Linked DNA regions of Homo sapiens: regions 2, 3, 4, 5 and 6 are each linked to region 1. Evidence: fine-mapped expression QTL. A gene starts in region 1. Each other region holds a variant in brackets. All regions are shown on one strand. Distances are between the middles of the regions.

Region 1 (5,475 bases):
GCAGGGTTGCCAAGAGGCTCCAGAGCAGCCTCTGCTGGGTTGAGAAGCTCTGCTGAGACACTAAGAGAGCGTTCTGGCAACATGTGAAATCTTGGGGGCTGTCTCCTCCAACCCCTCATTTGGCACTAAAGAAATCTAAGTCCTGGGAGGGGAGGTGGCTTGGCCAAGGTCATATAACCTCGGGAGGCTGCGTGGAATAAATGATGGAATCTGTTCCCTGCACCTACTTCTTTCCCATCAGACCCTGATCTCTATAGGGCATCCAAGTTGTTACAGGGAGGCTGGCTTCACCCCAATGGCGGAGGTGAAATATGGGATCTTGGCCAAGTTGATCGGCATTTTCTAACTTCCTGGCCACACTGATTGGTCTCGGAGTGACCCAGAACTTAAGACTGGTCTAATCAGAAAAAAAATCTCCGAACCTTTGAGGAAAATCCTGGGAAATACTGACCCTCCTTTCCCTGGGCTAGAAATGAACACAGGATACAAAGTAGTCGCAGCAGCTGAGGCCAGGCATCGTGTGACATCAAGAGGGAATAAGGTAGACTCCATGGAAAGCAGAGAGGAGAGATGGAAAGAAAAGGAATCCCAGGTGATAATTGTGAGTTGCTAGATCAAACCTCACCTGAAGCCTTTCCTCTGCAATGTTCAGCTACATGATCCAGTAAAGTATATTTTTAAGACAGACCGGGCTGGGCACAGTGGCTGATGCCTGTAATCCCAGCACTTTGGGAGGCTGAGGCAGGCAGATCACCTGAGGTCAGGAGTTTGAGATCAGCCTGGCCAACATGGTGAAACCTCGTCTGTACTAAAAAAAAAATTAGCTGGGCGTGGTGGCACATGCCTGTAATCCCAGCTACTCGGGAGGCTGAGGCATGAGAATTACTTGAACCCAAGAGGCAGAGGTTGGAGTGAGCTGAGATCACACCACTGCACTCCAGGCTGGGTGATGGAGTGAGACTGTGTCAAAAAAAAAAAAAAAAAAAAGACTTAAAAGATAGACTTAAGTCTTATTACTGTTAGTAATAGATGTTATTGCTTGTAAACAAAATATCCCCAACTGATAAACAGATGACTGGTGGCCCTAGAAACTTGCCTCTGGTCTTTTACTCCTGGTTAGGGGTGCTGGGCCCAAAGGGAAGGCCTCTATGCCAGGCTACATGCCTGGCTAAGCTTTAGATACAACTAAGGTTGATTGGTTTGGAGTTTACAACCCCCACTAGCATACATTTTATACTTTTCTTGTTCAGGCAAGTGGACTGGCTAATTACATGGGTTCAGAAAGCATTTTTTCTTGGCGCTTACTCCCGTCCTGCCCTCATGAACCCTTAGCATTTTTGCACATCTCTACAGCAATGCTTATCTCACCATATATATATATATAATATTATATATATTTACATATAAATATATATATTATATATATGTTATATATTATATATTATATATATTATATGTACATATATATAAATATATTATATATAATATATTTATTATATACATTATATATAATATATATATATACAATATATATATATTTATATATACGTTTTTTAGATGGAGTCTTGCTCTGTAACCCAGGCTGGAGTGCAGTGGTGTGATCTCGGCTCACTGCAGCCTCTGCCTCCTGGGTTCAAGAGATTCTCCTGCCTCAGCCTCCTGAGTAGCTGGGATCAGGGGTGTGTGCCACCATGCCCGGCTAATTTTTGTATTTTTAGTAGAGACGGGGTTTCACCATGTTGGCAAGGCTGATCTCGAACTTCTGACCTCAGGTGATCCTCCTGTCTTGGCCTCCCAAAGTGCTGCGATTACAGGCATGAGCCACCGCGCCCAGGCCTATCTCACTATATTTTAATGATTAACATCCACATCAGGCTTCTCTAGACCTCAGGCTTGCTGAAGATGAGATTAAACCTCATTCACCTTTGGATGCGTGCACCTGGCCCAGTGTCTGACACAAGCTTTGTATTCACGGATGCTTGTGGAGTGGATGAAACAATCTCTTCCCACTCCCTGCCTCATTGTCTGATGAGCCTTCATTACACTCCACTTTCTTCTCTTTGTAAATTAGGATGAGGTGAAAAAGCACAGCAGACAAGATGCGAAGCATTCACGCCAAGTCCTCAATTCACAAACTGATTTGATCTGCTGTTGTATTCCCAGAGTGCTAGGTCCCGTATGGGACACCAACGCCATCCCATATGCTCACTGTTCTGCGCTGCTGTGTATAAAGCCCTGGGCAAGAGGACAAGGGAGGGAAAAACCAGAAAGACTGAGTCAGAGAAGGCTCGGGATGAAATTTGAGTCCATTGGGATCATTCTGCCTAAACGACAGAGGAGAAAGCTTGGGCTCAGGGAGGAGTCCTCCTCCTCCTGGCTCAAGGTCACCGGGACAGACCAGTCAGGATGGGAAAGAACTCCACTTTCAAGAGCAAGACCTGTTTCCCCAGGACCTGGGCCCTGTGCAGACAGGAAGGGGGACTTCAGGATGGATGGGGAAAAGGACACGCTGGGAGGCTGCGGGGCCAGCCTTTGGGGCTTGCATCCTGCGAAGGTTGAGTAACTCCACGGGTCTCCCTTTTGCCGCTATACCACTTGCCAACTGGGTTTGGAGTCTCTTGGCTTGTGAGTCCTCAGGGACCAGAGAAGTGACTCAGTGAACACTTAGTACATCGTTGGCACCGGGGATTGTGTGTGATTCAGGAGTCACTCACAGAGCTTGTGCTGATTAACTCCAGAAACTCACCCAAAGCCTCCTCCCCACCCCTTCAAGCCCAGGATGAAGGGATCAGACTGTGGCTCTGACACTCCTGAAATGTTTCTCACGTGTCCACCTGCCAACCGGTCTGGTACCGACAGAAGATCCCTGGACCGCGAACTCCGGGGCTAGGAGCTTCCTCCACGCACTGCCTCCTTCCAGCGGCCCACAGGGAAAACAGGACCTCGGGACCCCCTCTCTTCCTGACCTCCCCTGGATTCTGAGCGGGCCCACCCTCAACCAAAGGTCCCCTGTTTCGCGGCCCCTGCCTCTCTTTTTCCGCCTTGGGAATTGTCCCCCTCGCCCCCCATCCTACTCCCACTACGTCCTGAGGGGTGTCTGTCTTCTCTGATCGCCCCCACCCCCTTCCTTTCCCTCCTCCTTTTCCTCCCTCGGCTCCTCCCCCAGGCCCCGCCCTCTCCGCCTCGGCCCGCGTCCCCCCGGCGCCTTCCCCATCACCCTCCCCTCCAGCGGGGACAGGGGTGTGGGGAGGGGGGCGGCGGCGGCGGCCCGAGCGGGAGCCCGAGCGGCAGCCGGCGGCCGCGGGAGCTGCGGGGAGCGCGGGGGCGGCCCGGAGCGTGCCGGGGTCCCCGCGCCTCGCTCGCCGGCCGCGCTCCGAAGATGGTGGCGGCGCCGTGCGCCCGGAGGCTGGCCCGGCGCTCGCACTCGGCGCTGCTCGCGGCGCTCACGGTGCTGCTGCTGCAGACGCTGGTCGTGTGGAATTTCAGCAGCCTCGACTCCGGGGCCGGGGAGCGCCGCGGGGGCGCAGCGGTCGGCGGCGGGGAGCAGCCGCCCCCGGCCCCGGCCCCGCGCCGGGAGCGCCGGGACCTGCCCGCCGAGCCGGCTGCAGCCCGAGGAGGAGGAGGAGGCGGCGGCGGAGGAGGAGGAGGACGGGGGCCCCAGGCGCGGGCGCGGGGAGGCGGCCCCGGAGAACCGCGGGGACAGCAGCCGGCCAGCCGGGGGGCACTGCCCGCCCGGGCTCTGGTAAGATGCCCTTTCGGCTCGCGCCCCGCGGCGAGGGAGGGAGGAAGGCAGCCCGACCCCACGCCCCCCTAGCCCTTGAACTCGGTCATCAGACTGGGACTCTGCAAGCCTACCGACTCCACATCGCCTCTTGCCCCGGGAAGCCGGGTGGGGTCCCTGCCAAGGCTCAGGGGTCGTGGGCTGCCCCTTTCAGAGTCTGAGCACGGACCCCTTGGGGTCTGGGGGAAGTTTTCTCCAGCGGGGGCGCTTTGGGGGTTACCGGAGCCTGGCTGGGTTCCTGTTCCCCATCACTCTTGCTGGGGACCCCAGGTGACTTGCTCCGTGCGTGTAGGTCTTGGTGACTCGCTCCCTGCCTGAGTGAGTGGATCTCCCCGGATCCTCAGCCGCTGTTCCTGGGCGGTTGTCGCAGCAGCATCTCTCTGGTTTTTGCCGAGCTGGGTGCAGACAGTTGAGCCCTCTGTTCGTCCTGGCCTGCGATGAGGGCTGAGCTGGGCGTCCCAAGTCCCCGACCATGCCCCTGAATCAATACTCAGTCCGGGGTGTCTGGTCTTACTTTGGGTCTTCTGTTTCTCTTCTCTGGATGTTTGAGCCTTCCGTCTTCACCTTCTCTGTCTCTAACCTTGCCGTCTCCCATGCCCTCTGTGACTTTATCTCCTCCCCATCTCCAGTTTCAGGGCATGGCTCCTTCTCCTAGCTGGTTGTCTCTGTCTTTCTGTCTTGTTGCGGCCGGTTCAGGTCACCAGCTGTGTGTCCGACCACACCGTCAGGGCTTCCACTCCTATGGGATTACTTTGCCCTTCGTGGGTGTGAACAGTCAGGGCTCTGAAACTGTTTTTTCCGCAGATCTGGGGCCATCTGGGTGGCTGGGTGGGGAACTGACTTGTCTTCCTACCCTGTCCCTAACTTCTCCAGGGATACCTTTCCCACCTTCTCTGGGCTGCCTTGCCCAGCCTACTGAGCTAGGAGCAGGAGCACATGGGGCAGGAGGCCGGAGTCCCCATTTCAGAGCCAAGGTCTCAGTTCTCCAGGGGCGTGAGTTCTGCCTTAGGGCATAGCCAATGTGTTGTGTGTCTGTCTGTTTCTTCATCACACTACTTGTCTGCAAGGATTTGCCTAGCCGTTAAAGGATATTAGACACCAGGGGGATGGTTTCAGGATCCTGAAGACTGAATGCATATTTCTATCATTTGTCACTTTGGAAGTCCTCACTGAAGACTGCCTTAGTACACAGCGTGATGCTTTCTGAGCTGCTAAACTTCTTCGGAGTCTGTGCGACCCTTTCTGCCGGAGTGCAGCTCTTCATGCCTGAGAACTGAGCCAGTCCCAAGACGTGATGTGATGGCATTTCACGTTGCTGTGTGGGTAGCAGGGAGAAGTCTTTCCCTCATTTGCGGGGAGAATAGTGGCGTGAGCTGCCTGACGGAGAACCAGAACATTCCTAGTGTCCTGCGATCTCTTCTTTACAGAGAGGGGTACTCTGAAACGCTGCCTTTGAACTCTTGGAGTTGATAGTGATGGGTTCCCGCAGAAATGCAATTAGAAGTTCTTTGTGCATCCAGAGCCCAGGAGGTGGGGTGGGAGGGTTGTGGGTCGTGTCCTGCTGGTCCAGTGTAAGAACGTGTAGGGGAGACATGGTGGGGGAAGCCTGGGGCTTACTGTATCATTTGCATCTGGGGGTCAGAGTGGGTTCAGGAGGTACCTTTAGGATGCATGTAGCACCTGTTGAAACAAAT
Region 2 (5,000 bases), 310 kb after region 1:
ATTAAGTGGGTTAATAGATGCAAATACCACATAGGAGGCATTCAAGTGTTAGATGATGATGATGTTGCTATTGCTGGTATTTCAGTCTTTATCTTGCTGTGATCTAAGCTTTCATAATGATTTTAAAGGCATAGGAAAAGGTTACAATAGGCCCTGCCATTATCTTGTTTTCTATACATTGGGTTGATCACAGGAGGGTGAGATTTTTGCCTCTGTGGAGTGTGCACTTCTCCTGTGGTTACACAGCCCTCAATGGAGCCATGTGCCTGGGGTCACCAGCTCATCTTCATTTGCTCAGGACCATCCAGTTTTAAAACTAAAAGTCCTGTGTTGTGGGAACTCCCTCAGTCCTGGGCAAACCAGGACAGTTGACCTCTTCCATATGTGCCTCTGGTAGCCCAGTTGATTTAAGAAGTATACAGACACGTGGTCGTTAATGTTTTTAATGTGTAACAGGGAAAAAAATAACATACAGGTGGTACATGAGAGAGTATTATTCAGCCTTAAAAAGGAAAGAAATTCTAAGGTATGATACAATATGGATGAGCCTGGAGGACATGGTGCTAGTTAAATAAGTCAGCCAGCAAAACACAAATCCTGTACAATTCCACTTATGTCAGGTACCTAGAATAGTTAAAATAGCAGAGAGGAAGTAGAATGGGGGTTGCCAGGGGCTATAGAAGAGAGAAATAGAGAATTATTATTTAACAGGTAGAGAGTGTCAGTTTTGCAAGATGAAAAGAGTTCTGGAGATGGATATTGGTGATGGTTGCACAACAATGTGAATCCATCCAGTACCACTGAACTGTACACTGAAAAATGGTTAAGATGGTCTACAGACATATCACCCTGAACACACCCAACCTCGTCTGATCTCAGAAAAATGGTTAAGATGGCAAGACTCTGTCTCCAAAAAAAAAAAAAAATTTGTGACATCAAATATCACAAACATTGGTGCATAAGATAAAGCTAAAGTAGAATTTAAATTAAATAGACATATGAAATAACTTAAAGATTATGGGTACACTAGAAGCAGAAGTTGGGGAAACACTGTTGTAGTCTATTCTCAGCTTAGGTTGAAAGCACCTCAACCCTCAACTTCCTCAACTTGCCTGACTTCACAGTCCCTCATGCACCAGCATAGTCTTTCTTTTTTTTTTTTTTTTTTTTTTTTTTTTTTTGAGACAGAGTTTCGCTCTTGTTTTCCAGGTGGGAGTACAGTGGCGCGATCTCTCCTCACTGCAACCTCCACCTCCTGGGTTCAAGCGATTCTCCTGCCTCAGCCTGGGATCACAGGCGCATGCCACCACACCTGGCTAATTTTTGTATTTTTAGTAGAGACGGGGTTTCACCATGTTGGTCAGGCTGGTCTCTAACTCCTGACCTCAAATGATCCACCCGCCTTGGCCTCCCACAGTGCTGGGATTACAGGCATGCCTGGCCTCCCCATAGTCTTTCATGTGTGTTTCTGCCCCACAATGGGTCGTTCATTGCAGTCCAGGAGGACTTACTCCAGTGTCCCCTGGGCTCTGTGCACACCTGGCAGCATCAGAGGTTTGAAATCCTGAATCCTGACATTCACAAAATCCTGCGTATAACTTTGGCTTTAGTCCTGTCACCTCACCGTTGGGCTGTGAGCACCTCTGGCAGGGTCCTTGACAGTATCCTGCAGTCGGGAAGGGGTTCTGGGGCATGAGTGCCAGGTGGGCACCGGGAGCCCAGAGAGGTGCAGTTGGCTTTGTGTTGGGCTCCTTCCTAGTGGAAGCTGAGCAGGCTTCATCTCTTGTCACATGCCACCAGCAAACAGGCATTGTGTGCCTCTGTGTGCCCAGGGCACCTTTTCCATACAGCCTGGGCTCCTGGGTGCTATGGGAACCTGAGAACTCTGCCCTCTCTTCCTTCATATCTTCATGTCCAGAGCTGTTATATAGATAAGACACACACACAATGGTGCCATGGCCCTCTGGGAGCCAGTCCCTAAGTCTGACACCAGCTGGGAAGGGACCTTGGACAAATCCCCAGGAAGGGGCCTTGGACATCTCTTAAACTATGCTCTGCAGAACATTCCATGGGTCTTATGCACAGAAAGCCTTCCAAGTTCAAATCAGGTTGGGTCTTTACACTGTTTTCCACAGTTCAAGGTGTCTTAAGCTTCTGATGTTCAAGATGGTAATAATAATGCTATTATATAATAGCTGACATTTATCAGGGGATTACTATATGCCAAGTACTGTGGCACAGATATTAGGTGCATTGTTTTTATTTAATACTCTCAAGACCTAAGGCTTATTGAAATGAAAGTAATTCATTCATAGTCCGGGTTCTCCAGAAGAAACCATGAGGAGCAGATAAAGATGGAAAGCAGAGAATTAACTACTCATAGTCATACATGACTTACAGCAATGCTTCTGAAATTTTAAAGAGCACATGCATCATCTGGAATCTTGTTTGAAAACACATTTTTGCTCAATAGATATTG[G/T]GTGAGCTCTGTTGCTCAATAGGTATTGGGTGGGGCCTGAAGTATGGCATTTCTAATAGCAGTGGGCTGCAGACCAGGCTATGAAGAGGAAGACATTATTGCGCCTGTATTTTTTTTCTTCTGCACTTGAAATGGAATACATTCATTCATTCATTCACTCGTTCATTCACTATCATTTGTAGAGGCAGTCTCGTAGTAGAGAACACAAGCTGTGACATTTGTCCCCAGGTTCCAGTTCTGGTTCTGCACTTTACTAAATGGATGATTTATCTAAGTCTCGGTTGCCCGTCCGTAAAATGAGAGTGAAGTGAAATTCCTTTTTTTTTTTTTTGAGACAGAGTCTCACTCTTTCACCCAGGCTGGAGTGGAGTGGAGCGATCTGTGTTCACTGCAACCTCCACTTCCCAAGTTCAAGCAATTCTCCAGCCTCAGCCTCCTGAGTAGCTGGGACTACAGGTGTACATGCCCACACCTGGCTAATTTGTTTGTATTTTTAGTAGAGACAGGGTTTCATCATGTTGGCCGGGCTGGTCTCAAACTCCTGACCTCAAGTGACCCACCTGCCTCGGCCTCCCCAAGTGCTGGAATTACAGGCATGAGCTACCACACCCAGCCAAAATTTACATTTTTTAGCATCATTGTGACTATCAAATGCAATAAAATGTGGCAAAAGTCTTTCCCCATGGCCTAGGGCATGGTGCACATTTAGTAAATGGCTGGGACTTGGGAGATTATTGTATTACTCATTTTTTTATTCATTTCGAAAAAGATTCTCATATGGCTCCCAGTAAGTTTATTTTAACATTTATTTCTTACTTATTTCAGCAGAGACTTCCCAGTGACTCCCATGGTGGTAGCAACAGGCCCCAGTTATCCTCAGGAAGCAGAGGAACTGGCATAGACCAAGAGACATGATTTCTAATCATTTCAGCAAAAAGTAGGAGGAAATTGATGATGAGATAGATACAAGAGATGAACTATGGGAACCATTTGGCAAATGACTTCACCAGAAAAAGAGAGTGAGAAACGTGTGTGAGTGGAAGAGAGAGAGAGAGAGAGAGAGCGCGCGAGAAACTGGAACGGGGTAAAATGTCACCAGATCGCAAGCTGTTAATTATCTGGAGAGAACTAAATATTATGTAGGCAATTATCGACAGGCGTCTGAAAGCAACAATAGGAGAATTTGGTCCTCAGCCAAATTCCATCTCCCTTTGGAGAAGGACTGGGGGGATGGGCTTTAGCATTCAGAGCAAGCATTTCACACAGAGGGAGAGCGAGGGGCCCGAGACCCTAGCAAGGGGGGTAGGCAGGGGTCCCCCCGCCCCACCCTTCCAGACAATCCATCAGGATCCTTTGCCAAGCACACAGCGCTTGGCTTTGAAAGGCGGCTTTGCCCAAAAGCTCTGGGCCTGGAAACCTCAGCCCCCTCCTCATCCACCCTCCCTCCCCCAAGATGTCATCTTTTGAGACGATTTCATGTGGAAGCATCGCTAAGTAAATTCGCTAAATGCCTATTCATCCCCGTCAGATGGGGACTCGGTGAAGCGGTAAATGTGAAAATGGCCCCAGCTCACAGCCCTGAAAGGCGCTTTCTGGGATTGCCAAATGGAACTGCAGCCGCTGACCCTGGGAGACCTGAGGCTTCACGAGAAGGGGGCCCAGGAGCCCCGGCCCGGCCCCTTCAATCCTCCCACTAAGGGTGTCTGAGAGACCTTATTTATTATTCCAACTGCCGGGGACCCATTCAGAGGTTAACTTGTCTCGTATTCATCAGGACAACAATAATGAACTGTTGCGGAGAGTGGTGAGGGGGTTGGTAAATAAGAGCTGTTAAAACGCAGTTGGAATGGGCCTCTTTATGGTTTGGAGAGAAACATTGCTTAAATTTTTTTATAGGCCGATTTAGTTTCCACCTCTCCCAGCGACTTATTAAAGAGGCTCTGTCCCCACAAACTACAGGTAACAGTGTCGGAGGCACCAGTGGACTTTACCTTGGCATGCACGATGGGGTTTAACCACGCGGGAGATGCACCATTGTAGGGACACGTGGGGTTAGCCCTTTGCGAGCATCCCCTGGGTTCACCTCTGTGCCCATCAGCAAGGTTTAGCTTTCCGTGTGTGTGCTGTATTCAACTCCCTGCAGACACACGGGGTGTTTCTGGTGCCTGCCGCTGCTAGAATGGCTGGTTTTGAATTGGTGTTTATTTCAGTAATAGGATGGGACACGAGCAGCGCTCATTTTCACTGCTGCCTCTCTTAACTGCTTTGTGCCCCCTCCGCTGGAATTATGAGTTGGTCAACATGAGTCATCCAATGAGAGAACAGGGGCTTGGAGTGGCGAGACTGCAGAGGCGCAGGGAAATGAAGGAGGGGGTGAGCAGTAGGGGCAGCTCAGACCAAAGAGTTGGGAGGCAGAGCAGGACGACGTGCATTGATTGTGCCCCTACTGTGTGCCCTTTAAATCCACCCAGTTGTCCATTCAGTATATATGCATGATGGGCCTACTAGGTGCTGGGCATGT
Region 3 (5,000 bases), 93 kb after region 1:
ATTATGCATATTCAAAGTGTAAAATTTGATGAGTTTTGATATCTGTATCCACCTGTGACATCATCACCCCAAATTATTGGATATAATGAACATCACCCCCAGGATTTTCTTATTTCTCTTTACAATAACTACCTCCCTCTTCCCCAAACCCCATCCACAGGCAAACAACTGATGAGCTTTCTCTCACTCTAGATTTGTTTACATTTTCTGAGTTTCAAACATTAGCGATTAATTGAAAAGTTCTAAAACGCTTTGCAGGCCAAAACAAACAAAAAAAGAAACAACGACAACAAAGTATAGCCCCTCATTGTCCACTCTCACCCCCAGCCCCTGGAAACTGCCATTCTTCTTTCTGTGTCTATGATTTTGACTACGCTAAGTACCTCCTATAAGTGGAATCACACAGTATTTGTCCTTTTGTAACTGGCTGGTTTCTCTTAGCATAAATAATGTCTTTGAGGTTTGTCCCTGTCACGGAATGTGTCAGAATTTCCTTCCTTTTTAAGGCTGACTAGTCCATGGTATGTGTGTATTGCATTTGGTTTATCCACGCAGATCTTCCAGGAGGGACACTAGGCTAGCTTTCCCCTTTTAGCTACTGTGAGTAATGCTGCTTTGAACACAGATATGCCAATAGCTGTTCAAGCCCCTTCTTTTCACTAGGTTGTGAACCCAGAGGAGGAATTGCTGATTATATAGCATTTGACATCTAGTTTTTCTATATTTAATTTTTTGAGAAGCCACCTTATTATCCCTCCATCTGTGAATGACACTTGCTTTTTAAATATAAGGAGTATAAGCATGTGATAACAAAATTCCCCCATGAGAAAAGGATATAAAATAGGAGACTTCTCCTTCTTTTCCAGTCTCTGTCTTTAAAGGAATCATTGCTAACAATTTCTTGTATATCCTTCCATGGGATATACAACCACTTTGCAGAGTTACTGAGAGTCAACTGCTTCGTCTGCTAAATGGGCACATCTCGCTCCAACCACCTCTTTTTATTTTTATTTATTTGTTTATTTATTTATTTAGAGACAGATTCTGGGTCTGTCGCCCAGGCTGGAGTTCAGTGGCATGATCTCAGCTCACTGCAACCTCCGCCTCCTGGGTTCAGGTGATTCTTCTGCCTCAGCCTCCCGAATAGCTGGGATTACAGGTGTGCACCACCATGCCTAGCTAATTTTTGTGTTTTTAGTAGAGATGGGGTTTCACCATGTTGGCCAGGCTGGTCTCGAACTCCCGACCTCAAGTGATCCGCCTGCCTTGGCCTCCCAAAATGCTGGGATTACAGGTGTGAGGCACTGCTCCCAGCCCTCCAACCACCTCTTAGCATTGTTGCCAGACACAAAGGAAAATGGAGACAAAAGTGCATATTTCTTCCAGAACTATCAGAGGCCAGCAGGTCTTCCTACAGAATTCAGCCTAAGCAATCTTTCAAATACAAATACAAATGATGGTCTTTGGAAAGACCAGTATTTTCAAAAGTGTCTTGAGAGTGAATGTCTGGCTCTCTGGAGGTAAGGGGTGTGTGTGTGTGTGTGTGTGTGTGTGTGTGAGAGAGAGAGAGAGAGAGAGAGAGAGAGAGAGAGATATCCTTCATTTCATAGATGTGGAGACTCAAAGCTTTCCCTGGCTTTCTGTTATTCTCTAGGATAACATGAGGCCCAGAAGACACCAAGATTCAGAATTCACAGCAGTGCCTCTGTACAGATCACTGTCCTCTACCCCCAGCTACCCCCACAACATGCCCAGTGGCCTGGCTGGGCTGGATCCTGCTCCCACCCACCACACCTTGTCTAATTTCTCTCCCGCATCCTCCGGGGGCCAGGTTCCCATTTTCATGCCATTCCAGTTTGCTGAAAAGCCCTGGGGTGTCTCTGCCCCCAGGCAGGCTGGGCTGGCCTCACAGAGGTTTTCCATCTCTTAGTCGGCCTCCCTGATTTAAAGCCGCCTGTCAGATGTTGGAGATTAAGTTAGAAATCAGCCATTTGCGCTGAGTTTTGGAGAAGCTGCTGCCAAATGGGAACTCCTGAGTCTTTTCTTCTATATATAGTCTTTAGGGTGAGCTAACTGAAGTTAGCAGGGTTTATTTTAGGAGGTGTCTCCTTGGAGCGGAGTGTGGTGGGTTGGGCTGCCTGCCCGGGGAGCATTTGAAAGATTGCTTAGGCTGACATCCTGCAGGAAGATCTGCTGGCCTCTGACAATTCTGGAAGAAATATGCACTTTTTTCCTGCCTTTTCCTTTGTTTCTGGCAGCAAAGCAAAGGAGTGGTTGAAGGGCTATGTGCCCATTTAGCAGACAAAGCTGTTGAATCTCAGTAACTTTGCAAAGTGGTTGTGATAAAGCGGAGGTAAGACAGGTCCTCTCATTCCTTGTTTTGTATCCCTTGTGGTAAAAGTTAAATTCCTTGAAATATTCTGTCTATGAAGAAATACTAAGAAAGTAGGGGATGGAGTGGGTTTTAATCTGAGCTTAGGAGAATACAGTATAAAGAGCTTGGACTTGAGAGTCATTCCTAGGTTCTAACCCCAGCTCAGCCTCTTACTGGTTCTGCAGCACTGGGCCAGTTACTTTTCTGCCTCAGTCTCAGTTTTCCTGGCTGTGAACTGGTCGTAATTTGCCTTACAGTGTTGTCGTGACGGTGAAAACATGAGTTACAAAGAGTTAAGGCCAGTGAAGTACCTGGCACCTAATACGTGCTTCATAAATGGCAGTTATTGCTTTATTTGAAGAAAAGGAAACTTTTAGCAACATATTCCTAGAAATTACCTCAATTAGAAGGAGACATCTTGCTAGAATACTAACTAGGATTTTAGGTTAAATTATGCAGTCATATATTAAAAGATCCACCTTTTGGGAAATATCCATTGACTGGTGACCTGGCAGAAGGAAACCTCAGGCTCATTTCTCTGCAAGGTCCTGGCCTCTTTGAGTAAGCCCAATAGACATAATCAAGATGACAGTGTATATTATTTAAAAGGTGATTATATTAAAGCATTTTTTGGTGAAAAAAAAAAGTCTTGGAACAAATAAATACCTATTTGGTATGGGAACTGCAGTCTCTTCC[T/A]CTTTCTCACACACACCCATGCATATTGTCCCTTCAACATTCGTGCCATTTGTTGTGTTTAATTATAGGGGAAGTGAAATCCTCTCCAAAGTTGCCTGCTAGTTAATTGCTGACGTTTCATTCTCGAACATTTATTGAGAATAAGCTCTGCCCCATGCCTAGTGGAGGAAACCCCCGTGACATTTGAGTACTGTAGACAGGTTTGACCTATTCCAATTCAACAAGAGAGAAAGAAGCAAGGGAGAAAAAGAGCAATGCAGATCATCTGGGTATCTTCTTTGTCCTCCAAAGCCTCAGTTCTTCCCTTTGTACAATGAGCACAGCTGGATTTAATGGGCTCCAGGTTCTTTGCTGCTCTTTGAGGCTGAAACTCAGGGGAGGTAAAGAAATTCTTTTGCTTGTTCTGAACCCCAGTGGGCTGATCCAGAGCTGCTTGTACACCCTCCCCTTTCTAGATGAGATGGTTCCAGCGTGAATGGGGATGCTCCAGTGCTTGAAACTCACAGGCATCACGTGGTTAAGCTAGAAATAGAAAATAAGTCATGTCTGGGTTTCGAGGACTCCCTGACTATTCTGGTTATGTTTGGAACAGAGCGTTTATGAGAGGCTGAACTGAATGGATGGGATCATAGCTTCCATTCCATGGAAGGCAGGGTCGTCCAGCTTTCCTGATGGGAATGTGTTTGTTGGGCAGGGGTGGGGTTGGGGTGATAAGCTTCTTGGGGAGTGAGCTAAATAAGCCATTCTCAAAGCCCTTCCCCTGAGAATAGAGCAGGCTGGCTGTCCCGCCAAACAAAGAGCCTGGATGTCTTGAACCACTGCAGTGATGGGAAGATTCTGCCATCCAGACAATGGGAACTCTATCGCCATGTCTAGCTGAGGACAGGGGGTTAGTGTCTGGCCTCATGAGGTCCCAACAGGTCTGTTTGATGGGCAGGTTAACAACATAGGCACTAGAACCAGGTCCTTCTTCCTGGCTGGGGGATCTTGGGTGAGTTATTAGTTAATCTGAGCCTTGACTATTCCATCTATAAAAACAAGACCCAGAATAGTACCTAATTTTGTGTGTGTGTGTGAGGCAGAGTCTCACTCTGTCACCTAGGCTGGAGTGCAGTGGTGCGATCTTGGCTCACTGCACCCTCCACCTTCCGGGTTCAAGCAATTCTCCTGCCTCAGCCTCCTGAGGAGCTGAGATTACAGGCATGTGCCACCATGCCCGGCTAATTTTTGTATTTTTAGAAGAAATGGTGTTTCACCATATTGGCCAGGCTGGTCTCGAACTTCTGACCTAAAGTGAGCTGCCTGCTTTGGCCTCCCACAGTGCTGGGATTACAGGTGTGAGCCACCACACCTGGCCTGGTTGGGTGCATTTCTTGTTCATTCGTCATTTGGTCCCTATTTTTTTTTTTTTTTTTTTTTTTTTTGAGACAGAGTTTTGCTCTTGTTGCTCAGGCTGGAATGCAATGGCACAATCTCGGCTCACTGCAACCTCCGCCTCCCGGATTCAAGCGATTCTCCTGCCTCAGCTTTCTAAGTAGCTGGGATTACAGGTGCAAGCCATGATGCCCAGCTAATATTTGTGTTTTTAGTGGAGACGGGGTTTCACCATCTTGGTCAGGCCGGTCTTGAACTCCTGACCTCAAGTGATCCTCCTGCCTTGGCCTCTCAAAGTGTTGGGATTATAGGCGTGAGCCACTGTGCCCAGCCAGGTCCCTGTTCTTTAACAGAAAAGACAAGTCACCAAATCTGTTTTAGGCCCTTCAGATGCAGCTGTGAGCAAAAGAGACATCACCCATCCTCTTGAGCACTGGCTTCTAGTTTGAGTGGCTGGTACCCTGAGGAAGGGTCTGGAAGGACACAACCTGCAAGCTTGGCTGGCTGTGGTTGGCCTACCTCTGTCCTCTTAGGTTGGGGTTTCTCAGCCCCATAC
Region 4 (5,475 bases), 380 kb after region 1:
TCAGGCAATGCAGGTAGGAAAGAATGTTCCAGAGAGGGCAAAGGCCGGCTAGAGATTATGTGACACTTCGCAGGAATTAAAAGTGATTTAGACACTGGAGGAAGAATAGTGACAGATGATGCCGGAAAGGCTTCCAGGGATCAGGTTTTGCAGGCCCTCAGGGGCTATAAAGGAAAGCCTTGACTACCTTGAGGACTATGTGGGATTTTCATCAGCATGAGAGTGACATGGACAGATTCACACTTTGAAACATTTATTGTGGTATCTTGGGAAGAACAGGCTGAAAGAGAGGCAAGATGAAACATGGGGAGACCGGAGACCAGGCTACTAAAACAGTCCAGGTAAGAGATTACAGTAATTTGGACTACAGTGAGGCTTCTATAAACATGATGTGCTTATTTATTGCTTGGAGATGTGACTGCACAGCTGACTGGAGTGTCTTCTGTTTCCATATATGCATATTTACTCTCAGTTGCTGACTGGCTCTGCACCTGTTATCTCAAGTAGGACTTAGAGGTGAAAGGTAAAGTGGTAAAAAAGAGGATCTGTATCAGGACACTGGCCAGCACCCCTACTATCCCCCAGAAACTGAGCCTGTGAAGCGATTAAAAGTCTGGATCTTAGAGGGAGCTCCAAGGAAAACTAAATCCAAAATGCCTCATCTGGGAGGTGAGGACAGTAAAGTCTCCTCCCATGCCTCCTCACTCTCAAAAGATGATATTTTCTCTATCCAGAATAGACAAATCTATATATAAAGTAGATTTGTGGTTGTCTAGGACTGGAGGTAGGGTATGGGGTATAGGAGGGTGATAACTAAAGATTGCTGAGTTTCTTTTTGGAGTGATGAAAATGTTATAAAATTGACTGTGGTGATAATTACACAACTCAATATACCAAAACCCACTGATTTGTATATTTTCAATGGATGAATTCTATGGTATATGAATTATATCTCAACAAAGCATTTTTAAAATATGTGTTTATCTCATATTTAATCAATATACAAGTATCAGATGGAAATGCTGCTTGACATTATATATTTACTTCATTATTGTCTACCAACCTTAGGTAGAATGTATGCTTAATGTGGATGGAACTTTGCCTGTTTTATTCACCACTGGTACCCCTGAGTCCAAAACAGAGCCTGGCATCTAATAGGTGCTCAAAAAAGATTCCTCGAATGAATGAGCATTTTGACCAAATCATCTGAAGCAAATCCTCTTTGGAAAAAGCATCCTTCCTCCTTTCAAAGATCTGTGGGGGTGACACTGTGTTCCATAAAAGTAGCTTGGAGCAAGCTGCCACAAGTAACCTATGATATCGACATCCATGCAGAAACTTAATTCCCAGCAGCTTTGGGATCCAAACATCACACTGGTGGGCTCCTCTTCCATTTGACACCATCCATTTTAAGCTAGCGGAGTCAGCACCAATTAGTACTCGTTAATCTAATTTTCATGAAACTGGATAAGCAGACACAGAAGTTCACAGAGTAGAACAAATTGCTCAAAACCAGAGCGAAATACCTCTTCTATCTTCTTAGCCTCGTAAGGTATAAGGAGCTCTTCCAACAGCAATTGGAAAGCAGGTAGCAGTTCATGGTCACCTTGTATACAGACTTACTGTCTTATCAGAGGCTTAAGCAATGGGAGGTCACATAATAACAGGCCCTGTTAGGCTGGTGGGGAGCCAGAACACAATAAATGAATTATGGCACCCCTTCCAGTTATATGTATTCTGATGCCTGTTCACAAACACGCGTTCTTTCATTTAGCCTTGAGATGTGAGTAGGAATGGATTCATCTATCCAATGGGTGAGGGCATGAAGGCAAAAGGTGTTGGATGACTCATTTATGAACCCAGAGTTAGCGCAAGAGTCCTTGTAGCAAACTTGCTAAGCCCATGAATTTTAAAATCAGGCCCAAGTTTGAATGCTAATTTTGCCACTATTCTCTGGCCTTAGACTGATAAGTGAATGTCTCCAAGCCCCAGTTTCCTCATCTGCAAATTTAGCAGCATCTACAAATTAACTAGATAATGCATATAATGCGTTTATCACAGGGCTGGCAAAAAAAAAAATATGTTCTTGATAAATGTTAGCTTAAAAAGAAAAACTATCCAGGCTCTTTCTGTCGTATGTTTTGTGAAAAACTTCAATGTACCATGTTTTCCTAATAAATAACCATCTTGGCTGGGCACGGTGGCTCACACCTGTAATCCCAACACTTTGGGAGGCTAAGGCAGGAGGATCACTTGAGGTCAGGTCAGGAATTTGAGACCAGCCTGGGCAACATACTAAGACCCTGTCTCTACAAAAAAAAAAAAAAAAAAAAATTAAAAATTAGCCAGGCACGGTGGTGCACGCTTGTACTCCCAGCAACTCGGGAGGCTGAGGTGGGAGGATCATTTGAGACCGGGCGTTTGAAGGTACAGAGAGATATGAACACACCACTGCACTCCAGCCTGGGCAACAGAGCCAGACCCTGTCTCAAATAAATGAATAAATAAATAACGATCGGCCGCAGTGGCTCACGCCTGTAATCCCAGCACTTTGGGAGGCCAACGCAGGCTAATCACCTGAGGTCAGGAGTTCGAGACCAGCCTGGCCAACATGGTGAAACCCCATCTCTACTAAAAATACAAAAATTAGCCGGGCATGGTGGTACATGCCGATAATCCTAGCTACTCCGGAGGCTGAGGCAGGAGAATTGCTTGAA[T/A]TCGGGAGGCAGAGGTTGCAGTGAGCCAAGATCGTGCCACTGCACTCCAGCCTGGGCAACAGAGTGAAACTCCATCTCATAAATAAATAAATAACAATCATGAGCCTTCACATTCCTTTCCCAGTCCCTCCTGAATGAACCTCAGCTTAGATGGTAAGGTCTGTATTAAATCTAGAATGCGTGGCATCTATTCATTCAGTGCAGCTTTGTTAAGCACCTACTATATGCCAGGTCGTGGGCTAGGTGCTCACTGTAGTTTTAGAAATAAAAGGCTCTATGCCTACATTCAAGGGGCTTGTAATATTGGATAATATAAGATGAAGGTACAGACACAAAAGGGAGTAAGAAAATGTCAAGTGATGTAATTTCCTGATGCTGACCTGCCCTCATACCTCCCCAGTTACAAATTCTCTAGTCTATTCCATCCTCAACCCTTCCCCCATGGCTCCAGAAAAGCTCACGTTAGCCTAATTTTGCAAACATAAGTCTTCGTAGTTGAGGAGTGCTGGGGTGTATTTATTCAATTTCCCAACTATATAATATTTACTCAGTGCCTACTATGTGTCAGGCACTTTATACTAAGTTCAAAATGGTAACATAACAAATATGGTCCCATTTCTTGAGGTGCTTAGAAACTGGATAGATGAGAGCTGATAATATAATAAGCTTGTAAATAAATATAAAATTGCAACTAGGAAGCAGTGAATGAGAGAATATAATGCTATAAGAATGTATAATCAGGGCACAGGAACTTGTCAGGGAGGTAAGAGAAGTCTTCATGAGAAATAGAGGCTGAATCTGAGCTTTGATACATGGTGAAGGCTTAAACAGCATGCAGGGAAGGGAAGAGCTTCTAGAGTGGAGATAGTCACATGAGCAAAGGCCCTAGTGTGGGAAGAGCCCTGTGCACATGAGGGGCAGAGGAGACACAGCAGCTGGACCACAGGGATGGGAGATAGTGGAAGATGGTGTTACAGTAGACAAGAACCAGACAGTGGTGGACTTGGAAGCCTTGTTAGGATTCTCAGCCACAAAACAATGGGCTACCAGCAAAGATTTGACTGGTGTTGGGGGGTGCTGGGAGGGGATAAGATAACCCTATTGGCGTCTTAAAGTGTAAATGAGCTAAGGAGGCTGGGGGGACAAAAGCAGATTGAGCACGAAGGGAGAGCGGTTGGTGTGGAAGTTGGAGAGAAGGGCAGATCATGCATTACCCTGCAGGCCAGGACTCGGAGCTGGCACTGAAGTCTGTGTTTAGTGAAAAGACTGAACTCTACTGTGCAGAGGACAGGTGGAAGTGAGCAACCCTCCATAGGAATGAGGTGAACAGTTATTCAGCTACCGTGATTGACCAAATGGGACTTGATTGACCAGGATGGGAGAGGAGGAAAGAAGAGATACAGTGGGAATGGGGGGAAATGGTAAAATTCAAGAGCTGCTTAAGACACTGCAGGATTTCCAGACAACTTGCTTGCACCATAGATGTCTCCAGGAATAGATATATGCAGGGCAGTGAGAAACCGGGCAAGTTAAGTTACCTTCCTAGTAGTCAGGAGCTGTCCTTGGAAGAGATTGACCTGGAAAGGTGCCCTTAGGCAGAGATGGCTGCTCTGGCCTCGACATGATACCCTGTAAGGCATGGTTCTTTTTCCAAGGAATCAAGTCACGTGGCTGCTCTCAACAGAATTCTTTAGAGAGAAAGTCTTGCTGTTTGTTATTCCATTGAGGAATCTTGGGCTGAGCTTTGTAGTTGTGGAGTCATCAATAAAATCAGGCAAGAATTCCAAAGGCACCAAGCATGAGCCTGCATTCCTTCAGGTTAGTGAAGATTTCCCTGTTGTAACCACTTCTTCGGTAAGCCTTGGAGATGTTTTTTGAATGAGCCACAATTCTCAAAGGCAATGCAAAGAGTTCCTGTGGGGTAAGATTCTGTTTTCAATTTCAAATAGTCCCCAAGTCCCTTCTGCTTTTCAGCACAAGAAAATATGCCTCTAAGAAACAAAATGTTGGAAAATGCTATTATTTCTACTGAAATTAAAGTCTTAGATTCATTTCCTTTCTAGAGAAATGCAGTAGATTAATTTTCCTTCCTGAGAAAGGTGTTCCTCTAAATGTGGGATTCTCAACTGAAGACAATTCCTCCCCCGCCGCCACCCCACTACCCATGGGACACTTGGCAATGTTTGGAGACATATTTGGTTGTCACGGCTTGGGAGTACTATGGGAATCTAGTGAACAGAAGCTAGGGATGCTGTCAACATCCTATAATTCACAGGACAACCCCTCCTACACACACAAAGAATCATATGACCAGGTATGATAGTAGTGCTGAAGCTAAGAAATTTTGCTCTAAACCTCATCTACATCTGCCTTTATTATGGCACTTGGTATGTTGAATATAGAAATAATATTATTCATATCCTTCAGGTAATGTCAGATGAAAGAATGAATGGGTGGATGGATGAATGGACAGGTGGATGAGTAAGTAATTCAGAATTAGCCAGATGAATAAATAAGTAGATGAATAACGACATTAATTAGTGAATAAATTAAATAAAAGCTAACATGTACTTAGCATTTACAACCTTTGTGCACCATGTTAAGGCCTTCACTTGGGATTGTGTTTCAAGTCTTGCTCAGTGGTCACATTTTCAGTGAGATCTTCCATGATGCTGTCATTAATACCATCAGCTTTTCTATCTCCCTCCATAGTGTTATCCTTGCATATATGAGCAGGGAATTTTTGCCTGTTACATTT
Region 5 (5,000 bases), 100 kb after region 1:
TCCTACTTCGCATATGAGGAAACTGAGGCACCAAGATCTCAAGTAATTTGCTCAAGTTCAAACGGAAAATAATTGAGCCGGCATTTGTACACAGAGACTCTGATACAAGTTTCCATGTTCTTAGCCACTATTCTATGCTGAAGTCACACGGAAGAAGATAATGAATGGAAACGGATAATTGAATGCAAAATACCCACTTTCTCTTAAAAATGGGCCAGACCAGCTGTCCTTGGTCCTGAATTCGACAGGCCTTACCATTAATGGAACTTGTTCTTGAACATTAGCATTGGGAGAGTTGTAGTCCTCACACTGATGGAAGCTATCTAATGTATTCTGTCTGCCATTGACACTGTGCCCCTCTAACACCCTTTCCCCTAAACTGATTTTCTTTTACCATGTTGGAATGTGAGTAGTTTACTGTACCTGCTGAAAGCAAGGTCTTAATTAGCCTTAATTTTTGAAGTCTGCAGCTGTAAAATGTGTTGAAAAGATTGAAAAGATTAGTGCACTAGTAATAAGATAATTGTCCCTGAGAAATGCTGTTAGCATGTAAACACAGTTAGCATGTGAAATCAGAACAACTGTAATATTTCCCTCGTTTGGTGTTTAAAGATGCTCCTGCGTGAATAATTATAACTAAATGCAAAGTGCAGAGATGGGATGCTGCATGTTTTTCCTGTTATTCTTTCCTGCTTCTATCCCAGCTCAGAAGTAAAACTCTTAGTGGAATCTTGTCTGAAGCTAGCCTCCCCTCCCCCACAGCCATTTGAAATTAGTACCAAGAATGGGGCAACTTAGAACAGAGGGAATTCCAAAATTAGGGATACTCAGCAAACAAAATCTACAGATCCCATAGCAACTTTTTTTGGGGGGGTGTTGAATGAAAGAGACCACACATGCATACCTGTATGTGCATGTGGATGCTCACATATGTGTGTGTACACACATGCATATTCACACACATACACTCTCTCTTTCTTTCTCTCTGTCTCTTAATAAACAGAGCTGGAGAAAACTAGCCATGGCTATACACAGCAGAAGCAGATGTGATAAACCTCATTTTACCTTTTTAGACCTAGAAAGGTTGCAGTAAAATATGCTGCACCTGCCACCACATGAGGTCCTTCCTTCCTTCTGTGGAGTTTTTGCATCCTTTGATAAGTTGGAACATACTTCAATTTTATGAAATTAGTACGTATAGTACCTTCCTAACAGACCATAGCTCATCAGATATGCTACATATCCTATAAAGACTAACCTTTCTGCTTCCTCATCTCAGACATTAGCCAATCAGTAGGTTGAGCTTGTCTCCTTCTGCTGTGTCATTTATACCCCAAACTCTTCTTTATAGGGAGGACTTGCCTTGACTTACAGTCAGGAAAACATCCTACAGCTCAGAAGTTGGCTGAGTTCTCAGCATACATCTCTCAGATTCCACCTATAACATGAATTGGGTTTCCGTTGATTTTGGTTCAGCAAGAATTTACCAAGTGCTTTCTATGTGGCAGTCTTAGGACTTCATTAAGCATAAAAACAAAGAAGATAGTCCCTGGTCCTGGGGAAGTGGGACAAGTTGTCAAAAGTATGTAGCAGGGGCTGATGAGAAGACAGGACTCTCACCCCTATCCATGGGAGTCAACTTTGCTCTCTGCCTTGTATTCCTGGGTGTGCATTCATAGGTGCTTCTTGAGTTAAATTATTCTTGGACTTTGCAGCCACGTTACTTTACAACCTGTCTATGGTTCATATCCCGTCCTTCTCTCTAACCTCAGGTCCTCCAGCTGAAAGTGCTGGGCTTAGCTTAGGATCCACTAAACCAGAGATTACAAACACCAATGCCCACAGCAGCCACACTGGCAGCCGTAAGTGAAGGACATGTGTCTGGGGCGGGGACTGTGGCAAGCAGGAGGGCCTGTGACCCTTCTAAGGGAGATAGCTGCTTTCCAGTGCCAGAAAGGCAGTGCCTTAGGAAAATGCTGGATTTGTGTAGCTAGGTCTTCTGATTTTTCCAAAAAATGCCAGAACTTTGCAGTTTTATGGGAAACCTCCTGAATGTGAAGTATTGGCATCCTATGTAGGTTTTTGTTGTTCTTTTTAAAACATTGTGCAGGCTGAACAAACTATGCCTGAGCTGAATACTGCTTGTAGATTCCAGTTTCTGTTGGCCACCTCTGCAGTCAGCCCATGAAGATCGTGTTCTCAAAGTGCTGGCTAAACAGAGGCCACTGCTGAGTCACTAGGGTTGCTTCCCACCACTTCATGAACGTGTTCAGTGTGAGACCACACACTTTACCTTGCATCTTGTTTCTCCAGCTCTTTCTCATCCTGCCCTCCCCGCAGATGTCTCAATGAAGTCCCTGGGAAAGTAACACTTACTCTCCTGAATACAGCCTACAGTTCCACCAAGCGTGGCATGCATGTGAGCGAGGGTCCCCCAACCCCGCCCCACTGCAGAAGGCGTAGAAATGAAAGCGGATCGTTGTAAGCTTTGGATCCGCCAAATGGGACTTAGCACAGCGTCGTCTCCTGCGTGTTGATTATCAACTTGCTTGGGGGATCTCAGGCTCTTGCCTGACCTTGGCATGAGGTCTGGCAAATTTGGCTTTCTGGGTGTAGAATTGATCGTTTCAGAAACAAAGCCATTGAGACAGAGTTAAGGAGAGTCCTCTATTCACGGATGAAAGGAGCTCATTGTATAAAATTGGTGTGACCTGGACCCCCTTCCTCTGGCCCCCTCCTGTTGTTCCCTTCCCCCACAGCTGGGGCTTTGTAAGGGTCTCGCAGGATGTTCTATCCCAGGCCATACTTTCTTCCCATCTTCCTGTCTCTGAGGCTGCCCCGAACAGAAGGAGAGCTGGGCTTGGAGCCCCTTTGCA[C/T]GTTTTTGGCTCCTCGGGCCAACTCTGTTGTCGTGGGTGATGAGAGCACTTCCTTCCGAGAGAGCTAGGAGAAAAACAGCCAGGCTGTTCACAGGCAGCTGCCCAAGGCGGCTGTGCAGGAAGAGAAAACAGTGGGTGCTAAGAACCTCTTCCTGTTCTGCCTTCTGCACGGGCACCTCCCTTCTGGGTCACGGCCCTGAAAAGTCAAGACTGTTGAGCTAGAGGAAGATGGTCCTGTGTGTATTAACCTCAGTGCTCAACTTCCTGATGGATTATTTGAGTTTTTCTGTTTCTGCTGTGAAGTCACGGGATCCCGAATTTTTCTTCTTGAGGTTGGCGGGTGAGGGTTGGAGTCATGTTCATGGGGTAACATGGTACCTTCCTTTGTGGGGGAGGGGTAAGGTATGGTGGTGAACAGATAGGAAGGTCATAAACTTAGATGCTTTCAGGGCTCAGCCCAGGTGGGCAGGGTGGGGTTGTGGCAAACAGAAGGGGATGTGCCTGCCTTAAGTGGACCTGCCTACCCAGTGGGTCAGATCTTTCCACATTTCACGAAAAGCCACAAATCAGAATATCATGATTTCACCCTAAATTTTAAATGCTGGCACCTAATTTTAAAAAAAGTATTGTTCAAAAATTAGCCAGGCTTAGTAGCATGTGCCTGTAATCCCAGCTCCTCAGGAGTCTGAGGCAGGAGAATCGCTTGAACCCGGGAGGTGGAGGTTGCAGTGAGCCGAGATCACGCCACTGCACTCTAGCTTGCGTGACAAGCAAAACTCCATCTAAAAAAAAAAAAAAAAAAAGAAGTATTTTTGTGCACCATGCAGATCACACCATACCACATCCAAGCATTTTGGTTACCTTTTTTTCTTTTTTTTTTTAAACCTCTCTGAAGATATTAAGGTTAAATGGGCCTGGCTCTGTGGCTTTCAACCAAGTCTTTGAAACTCTCTGAGCCTCAGTTTCCTCCTATATAAATTAGGAACAGTACTACAGGGTATTCATAATCCAGGAACAAGGAAATACTTAATGTCATCAAGAGAAAAAGCAAACTGGGCACACTGACTCTTGCCTGCAATTCCAGCAATTCGGGAGGCCAAGGCAGTAGGATCACTTGAGACCAGGAGTTCAAGACCAGCCTGGGCAACATAGGAAGACCCCATCTCTACAAAAAATGAAATATTAGCCAGGCGTGGTGGCACAGGCCTGTAGTCCCAGCTACTTGGGAGGGTGAGGTGGAAGGATTGCTTGAGCCCAGAAGTTCAAGGCTGTGGTGAGCCATGATTACATCACTGCACTCCAATCTGGGCAGCAGAGCAAGACCCTGTCGTTTTTTTTTTTTAAAGTAAAAACCAAAAAAAAAAAAAAAATCTATCTATCCAGTCTTTATGGCCTTCTGGGAACAGCCACTTCATGAGGATAGAATGTGGGTTTATTGAAGTAATGCTCATAAATGGTGAATTATGGTATCTCATAAGGACTTAACCAATGATAGCGGTCTACTGGGCGCTGTCATCAAGGCTGTCATCTTCATTGTCACTATCGTTTCATTAAGAAATATTAGAGGAGGTTGAGGGGACAGGCTGCAGGCAGAGTCCCTCCCCTGCTGAAGCTTTCTGACTCCATCCTGACTCTAAATGTAGAAGGCCCATCCGTCCCCTGCAGGGCCACCTTCCAGCCAGGTGTTCTCATCGTCTCTCTTCTGTCCTAGGAAGGCAGCTCTACATCCCGAGCTGTAGCCTGGGACTGCAAAGCTCTCCACTCCCCACCTCCTGGGATCGTTTTTTCCGCCCCCCGTGGTTTGTGTCGGCAGTTCTGTGTGTGGCCTCTTGGAGTCATTCCAGACGCGAAGCACTGCTGAATCACAGTTTTCCTGTATCTTCGACAATAGATGTCCTGGTCAGAGGCTCTTGTGAAGGAGCAAAAGAGGAGGAAGTGAAGAAAAGCAGGGAGGGATGTGCATAGAAATTTATTTTGGCAAAATGGGATGAACTCCAGATTTGGTATCAAAAAACTGACATTCTACACTGAATTTTAATCCAAACTGTGTGTGGCCCTTAGGAAATAGGCCTTTCCTCCTGGATCTCCCATGCCTCACCAAACAGTGATGGGTTTGATTCAGGT
Region 6 (5,475 bases), 370 kb after region 1:
AGACAGCCAGCCTTCCCACATCCCACTTCACTTCCCGGTCCACACGTAAAGCAGTGTGTCTCCAAGGAGGCAGTGAGCAATTCCCAAGGTCCCCGTGTTGTGAGAAGCGCGCTGCTTTCTCCCTTTGCAGGGGAAAAAAAAGGCTTTCCTGGTGAGATCATGAGTCCTTCCGGCTTCATTTCTCATTGTGGGTTTAACTTCTAAAACGCAAATGGAGTTTAGAGAGGATGAGCAGAACCACAGGACCTGCCCCCATCTCTCACTCACTGCAATTGCTTCTACTCTGGGCACAAGTAGGGTGTCTGAAGACCATGTTTCCCTCTGGTTCTCTAGTTTGCAGATAACACAGAAGACACTGGCTAGAACCTTAAGCTTTCTGCCAAAAAGATGCAGAGAGCAGGGCAGTAGCTACTGGCAGTGGGGTGTGAATAAAGAGTCCTTTCACAACCAAGTTCACTGAGGATTTGGAGCACCAGCTTCCCAGCAGTATCGAGGGGTGGAGAGGTGTACATTCAGGTGGAGGGGTACATCTAGGGGTGGAGAGGTGTACATTCTAGAAACAGCTGTTAACACACTCCACTTTAAAGACAGCAAGCTAGACCTGCAGGATCAAAGCCACACACTGTGGTAGGGGTTACAAATGTTTATGGGGCCCAGAATACTAGCATAGATGCGTGAAATGGTTGGTGTGAGGCAAAAGGGCATGGTGGGGGCAAGGATGGGGACTGTGGTCTTACTGGCATGCACGTGACCTACCCAGAATGAGCAGCTGCTACTCAGCCCCAACCTGTCATTGTTTGTAAAAATGTAAGCACAGTGTAGTGGAATCTTCCAATTTGGAAGGGAAGCCGGAAATCCAGATTTAATGGAAAAAATCTGATTTTTCAACGTCGGGTTGTTTGTTTGTTTGTTTTTGTTTTTTTTAACAGATAGTGGGCAAAGAAAAATTCCACTGTTCCACGTGTACACTGCCAGCAACCTCTGCTCTCTGGAGAGGTGGTTTAAAGTGAGATTATGCATTGCCCTGGTAGAAGAGGAAAAAAGCCAGCATCAGGTCAGGGCAAAAATAACAGCCCATGTTGAACTCGGAATGGGGACCTCTTGCTAAGTCATTCCACTCCTCAAGAGACCATTCCACAGAGGGGGGATGGATCATTCAGCTCTCCTGGTCCCAAGATTGTGCTGAAGGGAAGAAGGAATAGAATCTGGAGATCTGGACTGCTGCCCCTTAGATATGCAGAGGTCCACATCTGCCTGGGGCTACAGCTTGTGGGACTCCATCAAACCAGGCCGAAATGGCAAAGACAGTCTAGGAGGAGGAGGAGGTAGGGTGTGAAACAGCCAGGCTCTCTCCAAATCCCAAGTGTTGACACAGCCATCTTGTCCCATCCCTGGAAGCCTCTTTGGAAACCACATAGAGCTGTGCTGGCTCACGGGATGTCCTGTTTGCTTCTGCCTCAGTTACCTTACTTTGCCCATGGGTCTACCACAGGCGCTACCTCATTGTGTCTGCTGAGAAGTTTACCTGGGAGGGGGGAACAAAGTTGTCCAAATCTGCTTGAGCTGAATGTATGATCTATGCAAATTCTCTCTCTCCTCTCTCTCTTCCTCTCTGGCTCTCTTAGAAGTTTTTTTGTTTTGTTTTGTTTTGTTTTGTGTTTACCTTGCAAACAAGATACTGTATAGGACCCTCTTAAGATGGAGGAGGGCTTTCTTGCGCCACCTGTGTCTACCCCTCACGTTGTCTTTGGCTCTGGTCTTACCAGGCGTATGCAGGGAGAAAGTGACCTCTCTTCCCTCTCCACTTGGCTGGGAATATTCCAACTGCCTCTGCCTACAGATACCACCAGAAAGCGGGTTCTGCACCTTGTCATCCCCCTCCCTAACGTCATCTACTCCATCCCTCATGTTCCTCCAACTTGCTTCTCCCATCCCTCCTTCAAAAACAAAACAAAACAAAACAAAAGCCTTAGGTTTCTCCTTTTTGAAATGTGGCCTTAACATTATTTTTGGGAAGCTGACCATCCATCCTTTCCCTCCCATCTCCACCAACATCAGAGAAGACAGCATCGTGAAGCTTCTGTGGCAGCCTCCTAAGGAAGGGGCTGCCAATCTGTAGTTGGCAGATGCTATAGGAATTGCTTACAAATGTCGTCTTTAAGAAAAATGTTCTTATATTTTTCCTATGGGCAAAATGAAGGCTTGGGTGCTCATCTAAAGCTCAGCCAACTCCTGAAGCACTCTCTCAGAGCATACTGCTGCTGTAATGGGCTGGCTTAATTATCGGCAGAGTGCTTGAAAAGGCTTTGCAGACCTCCCCTGCCCCCAAGACTGGGTGACTTTATATGTACTTCATTCAAGGGTAAATCAGGAGACGTTCTCCATTTATCTCTTCGTCCTTCCTGCCTGGAAAGTGATAGCACTAAATATTCCCAGCAGATGGGTAGTGTTCTCAAAGGAATCACCCTTTCCCTACCTTCAGACTCTATTCTTTACCCTTCCATTGCTCCAGTGCTGATGGAGGCCAAAGACAACCCCAGGGTTTTCATAGGAAATTCACTGGAATTGTGCGCAATTGTCTTTGTAGTCCTTTTGCCTTTTTTTTTTTTAAATATTATGTTGTCAATAGCATTTGTTTGGGTATTTGTTTTAGAGGCCTCACTCTAAGTTATTACCGTCCCCTTCATTGTTTTCAAAGACATGTGGTGATATAGTTTTTAAAAATAACTATTTTGTTATAGATCATAATATGCATAAAACTGTACAGAAATATTTTGTAATGTGTTGATTTTAAAAAAAATCTGTAAATAAAGTTTTAAAAAAAGAATTCAAATGGCACACGCTGAAATATGTAGATATTTTGCTATTTATTTAAAGGAGTATTTTAAGAGATATTGAACTATCTGAAATTGACCAGTAATCAAAGTTCCAATCATCTGAATGCTTTTCCTTGAGGTAGAATGTGAGTCTCAGAAATGACTGCATTAC[C/G]TGCCCTTTTTTGCACCTTTTCTGTCTTTTTATTTTGCAGAACAACAACAACAACAAAATTGTGCCTTAGCTGTATTTTTTTGTCTAGGGGAGTTTGTTTCTGTCTGACAAAGCAACATTTTTTGCAGAAAACAGTGGATGTATTAAATACTGTATCATACCAAAAACACTGCAGGTGTATATAGATGCTTTCTGTCATACTGTGTTTTCAGATGCAGAATTTTAAAATTAAAAAAACACTGCCTTTATGGAACAGTGACTATATGTGGCTTCTTTTCAGCAACATTGTGCATCTTTACACAATCTCATATTCTCTTCTGTCATCTGCATGGTGAAGATAGGATGACTATATAATTTATCATCCAAACTGGGATACTTTTGAGAGTTAAAGGAAGCACCACGTGGATGGGATGCTGAGACTGCAGGCATAAATGGCCTATCCTGGGAAAACCTGGGTGTGTGGACACATTTCCCTCATAAAAACTGCTGTCATCTTCTAACTGGATTATAGCAACAACCTCCTATAAGTACCTCCTGGTTGAGGCAGAAGTATATGATTTTTAAACCCGTACTGAGTAGAGAATAACAAGAAGGGACTGCCATGGAAAGTTGCAGTTTCCTATACCCAACTGGTTGGTTGGTTGGCAAACGTGTTTTCCTTTCCTCTTTACCACAGAGACTACATTTCCCAGACTGCCTTGCTCTTAGCTGTGACCATGTGACCAGGCCAATGGAACAGCTAGACTGCATCTTCCAGACTGCCTTGCTCTTAGCCATGGCCATGTGACTGACTCAGGCCAATGGAATGTAGGTAGAATAGGTACATGGCACCTCTAGCCCTGGTCCCTAAAACCTCCCACTGGAGTCTCTCCTCTCTCAATCTTTCCCTATTTGCCAGCTCAGATGTTTTGAATCACCTTGATTTTGTACATTCATCCACTTGGCCTATTCAGGTGGTCTTTTTGGAAACTTTGCACAGCCTCTACCTTAAAGGAAGGCAGAGCCACAGTTTGGAAGGTAACTGAGCCCCTGCATAGCCACATAAAAGAATGCTTGACCAGAGTCACCCCTATTGACTATGACATGAAAAGAAATAAATATGTATTTTGTTATGCCCCTGAGACTTTCAATTACAGCAGGCTAGCCTTACCTTAATTAATCCAATCAGAAATGGAAATTCAAATGTTTCTTTGGGAAAATCCACATTTTGGTTCCTTCACTCAGTCGGTAAAGTAGAGAGCCAGACAGGTGAAGGGATTTGCCTGAAGCTACCCATGGTCATCAGGGTCAAGTCTAGAACCAAAGTTTCCCATCTTCCAATGAGACTTTCATAAGTCACTGGGAAGACCAGTTCCTCCACCCCTGAGGTTAGCTCACTATTATGTATATATGTGGTTTCTGAGGGCTATGCCCAGGGGTTGGGAGCCTAGATGCCTGGGTTGTAAAGATGCTTCTAATTCACCCTTCAAAATCCTTAAAGGAAGACAGGCACTGAGACACAGATAGGATTTTAGCAGCTAGAACAAAATAGGCTAGATATCTCCCCATTAGACACACAGAGGGGCAAATATATGGAGAGCTGTGTCAGCTTCAGCCTCCTTGAGCTTGGCTCAGGAGAGATGGTGACTGACTCCATATTTAGACAGATGGATGGACCCAAGATTCATTTGTCAAAACCTCTTTCCAGCCTGATCTTACAGCCAACTTCCCTTTCCTCTGCCCGGAGATAATTCCTCAAAAAATGAGTTCAGTTGCAAGGGAAGAATAAATTTCTAAAATCTGCGTAGGAGTAAGGATCACAGTTATCTTATTCACTGTGGTACCTCCAGTATTTAGCACAGTGAGTCCAGCGTATGGGCACTCAGTGAATATTCAGTGAACGGACAAGTGAATGAGACCATATATCTTAATTAATTAACAATATGGGCATGGGGCCATTTGTCCAAGATTCTGTCTTTAAAACCATCATTTGATGGATAGTATTTGTCAAAATATGGGTCATTGTAAAGTAAGCTGTGATTTTTTACCTTCAATAATGAGGTTTCTGGGCCTACTGAAGGGTCAGTTGGAATTTCTTTCCTGCTTATTTACTGGGTTTAAGTTCATTAAATTCGTGATTTTAAGAGTTTTTTTTTTCTTCTTTAAGGGGAATGCTTTTTCAAGCAGTGTACCTTAAACCTCCACATATATATATATTTAAAAAAAAAAAAAGACTTAAAAATGGGTGATTAGGAGGGGTGCCCTGGGTGAAGTGAGAGTAGAAAGCTTTGTCTCAGCAAGTGCACCCACCCCCACCAGCCCGCCTCTTTCATGGCTCCATGGGATACGTAGATGACCATGCTTTGAAGTCACACCACACCGATGTTGAAAACATCTAGGCTTTTTGTACGGTTGGCTTTGAGGCCTTGCTGCCAAGGTGCTGAAAGTTGAGTTCTAGGCTGGGTCTCTGAGCATGAGACCAAACCAAGAATAATTCAGTCCACCTGG

Direction of the effects. Alleles are on the strand shown, and positions count from the first base shown. SD is a standard deviation of normalised expression in the study named. Not every link is listed here.
For the expression in monocytes after R848 of the gene that starts at base 3,216 in region 1, allele G in region 2 goes with a lower level than allele T (moderate effect, 0.64 SD a copy in Quach 2016).
In carriers of allele A in region 4, the expression in CD4 T cells of the gene that starts at base 3,216 in region 1 tends to be lower than with T alone (large effect, 1.2 SD a copy in CEDAR).
With allele G in place of C in region 6, the expression in rectum of the gene that starts at base 3,216 in region 1 is lower (large effect, 1.1 SD a copy in CEDAR).

Evidence for each region. PIP is the estimated chance that this variant, and not a neighbour inherited with it, causes the effect.
Region 2: its variant is fine-mapped to the expression of XYLT1 in monocytes after R848 (Quach 2016, PIP 0.95). The same link has a PIP of 0.9 or more in monocytes after LPS and monocytes after Pam3CSK4.
Region 3: its variant is fine-mapped to the expression of XYLT1 in whole blood (TOPMed, PIP 0.97).
Region 4: its variant is fine-mapped to the expression of XYLT1 in CD4 T cells (CEDAR, PIP 0.95).
Region 5: its variant is fine-mapped to the expression of XYLT1 in whole blood (TOPMed, PIP 0.97).
Region 6: its variant is fine-mapped to the expression of XYLT1 in rectum (CEDAR, PIP 0.95). The same link has a PIP of 0.9 or more in B cells, CD8 T cells, monocytes and transverse colon.

Annotation. Positions count from the first base shown.
Region 1 is chr16:17,468,701-17,474,175 of GRCh38, reverse strand. XYLT1 (xylosyltransferase 1) reads left to right here and starts at 3,216. Exons shown (of 12, transcript NM_022166.4): 1 at 3,216-3,742. The coding sequence starts at 3,380. It overlaps LOC107987234 (a long non-coding RNA gene), which reads left to right and starts at 3,749. Exons shown (of 2, transcript XR_001752091.2): 1 at 3,749-5,475. LOC105371106 (a long non-coding RNA gene) reads left to right here. Exons shown (of 3, transcript XR_933144.3): 3 at 2,072-3,169. RefSeq lists enhancers at 2,721-3,222, 3,997-4,046, 4,167-4,436.
Region 2 is chr16:17,160,220-17,165,219 of GRCh38, reverse strand. The region is part of intron 5 of XYLT1 (xylosyltransferase 1); the gene reads left to right. Among named protein-coding and RNA genes, the nearest start is that of XYLT1, 310 kb to the left of the region's middle. The variant G/T (reference allele first, on the strand shown) is at 2,480.
Region 3 is chr16:17,376,322-17,381,321 of GRCh38, reverse strand. All of the region lies in intron 1 of XYLT1 (xylosyltransferase 1), which reads left to right. Among named protein-coding and RNA genes, the nearest start is that of XYLT1, 92 kb to the left of the region's middle. The variant T/A (reference allele first, on the strand shown) is at 3,071.
Region 4 is chr16:17,084,356-17,089,830 of GRCh38, reverse strand. No RefSeq gene overlaps it. Among named protein-coding and RNA genes, the nearest start is that of XYLT1, 380 kb to the left of the region's middle. RefSeq lists an enhancer at 5,156-5,475. The variant T/A (reference allele first, on the strand shown) is at 2,718.
Region 5 is chr16:17,367,810-17,372,809 of GRCh38, reverse strand. The region is part of intron 1 of XYLT1 (xylosyltransferase 1); the gene reads left to right. Among named protein-coding and RNA genes, the nearest start is that of XYLT1, 100 kb to the left of the region's middle. RefSeq lists an enhancer at 3,135-3,224. The variant C/T (reference allele first, on the strand shown) is at 2,877.
Region 6 is chr16:17,100,090-17,105,564 of GRCh38, reverse strand. It overlaps XYLT1 (xylosyltransferase 1), which reads left to right. Exons shown (of 12, transcript NM_022166.4): 12 at 1-3,796. Among named protein-coding and RNA genes, the nearest start is that of XYLT1, 370 kb to the left of the region's middle. The variant C/G (reference allele first, on the strand shown) is at 2,989.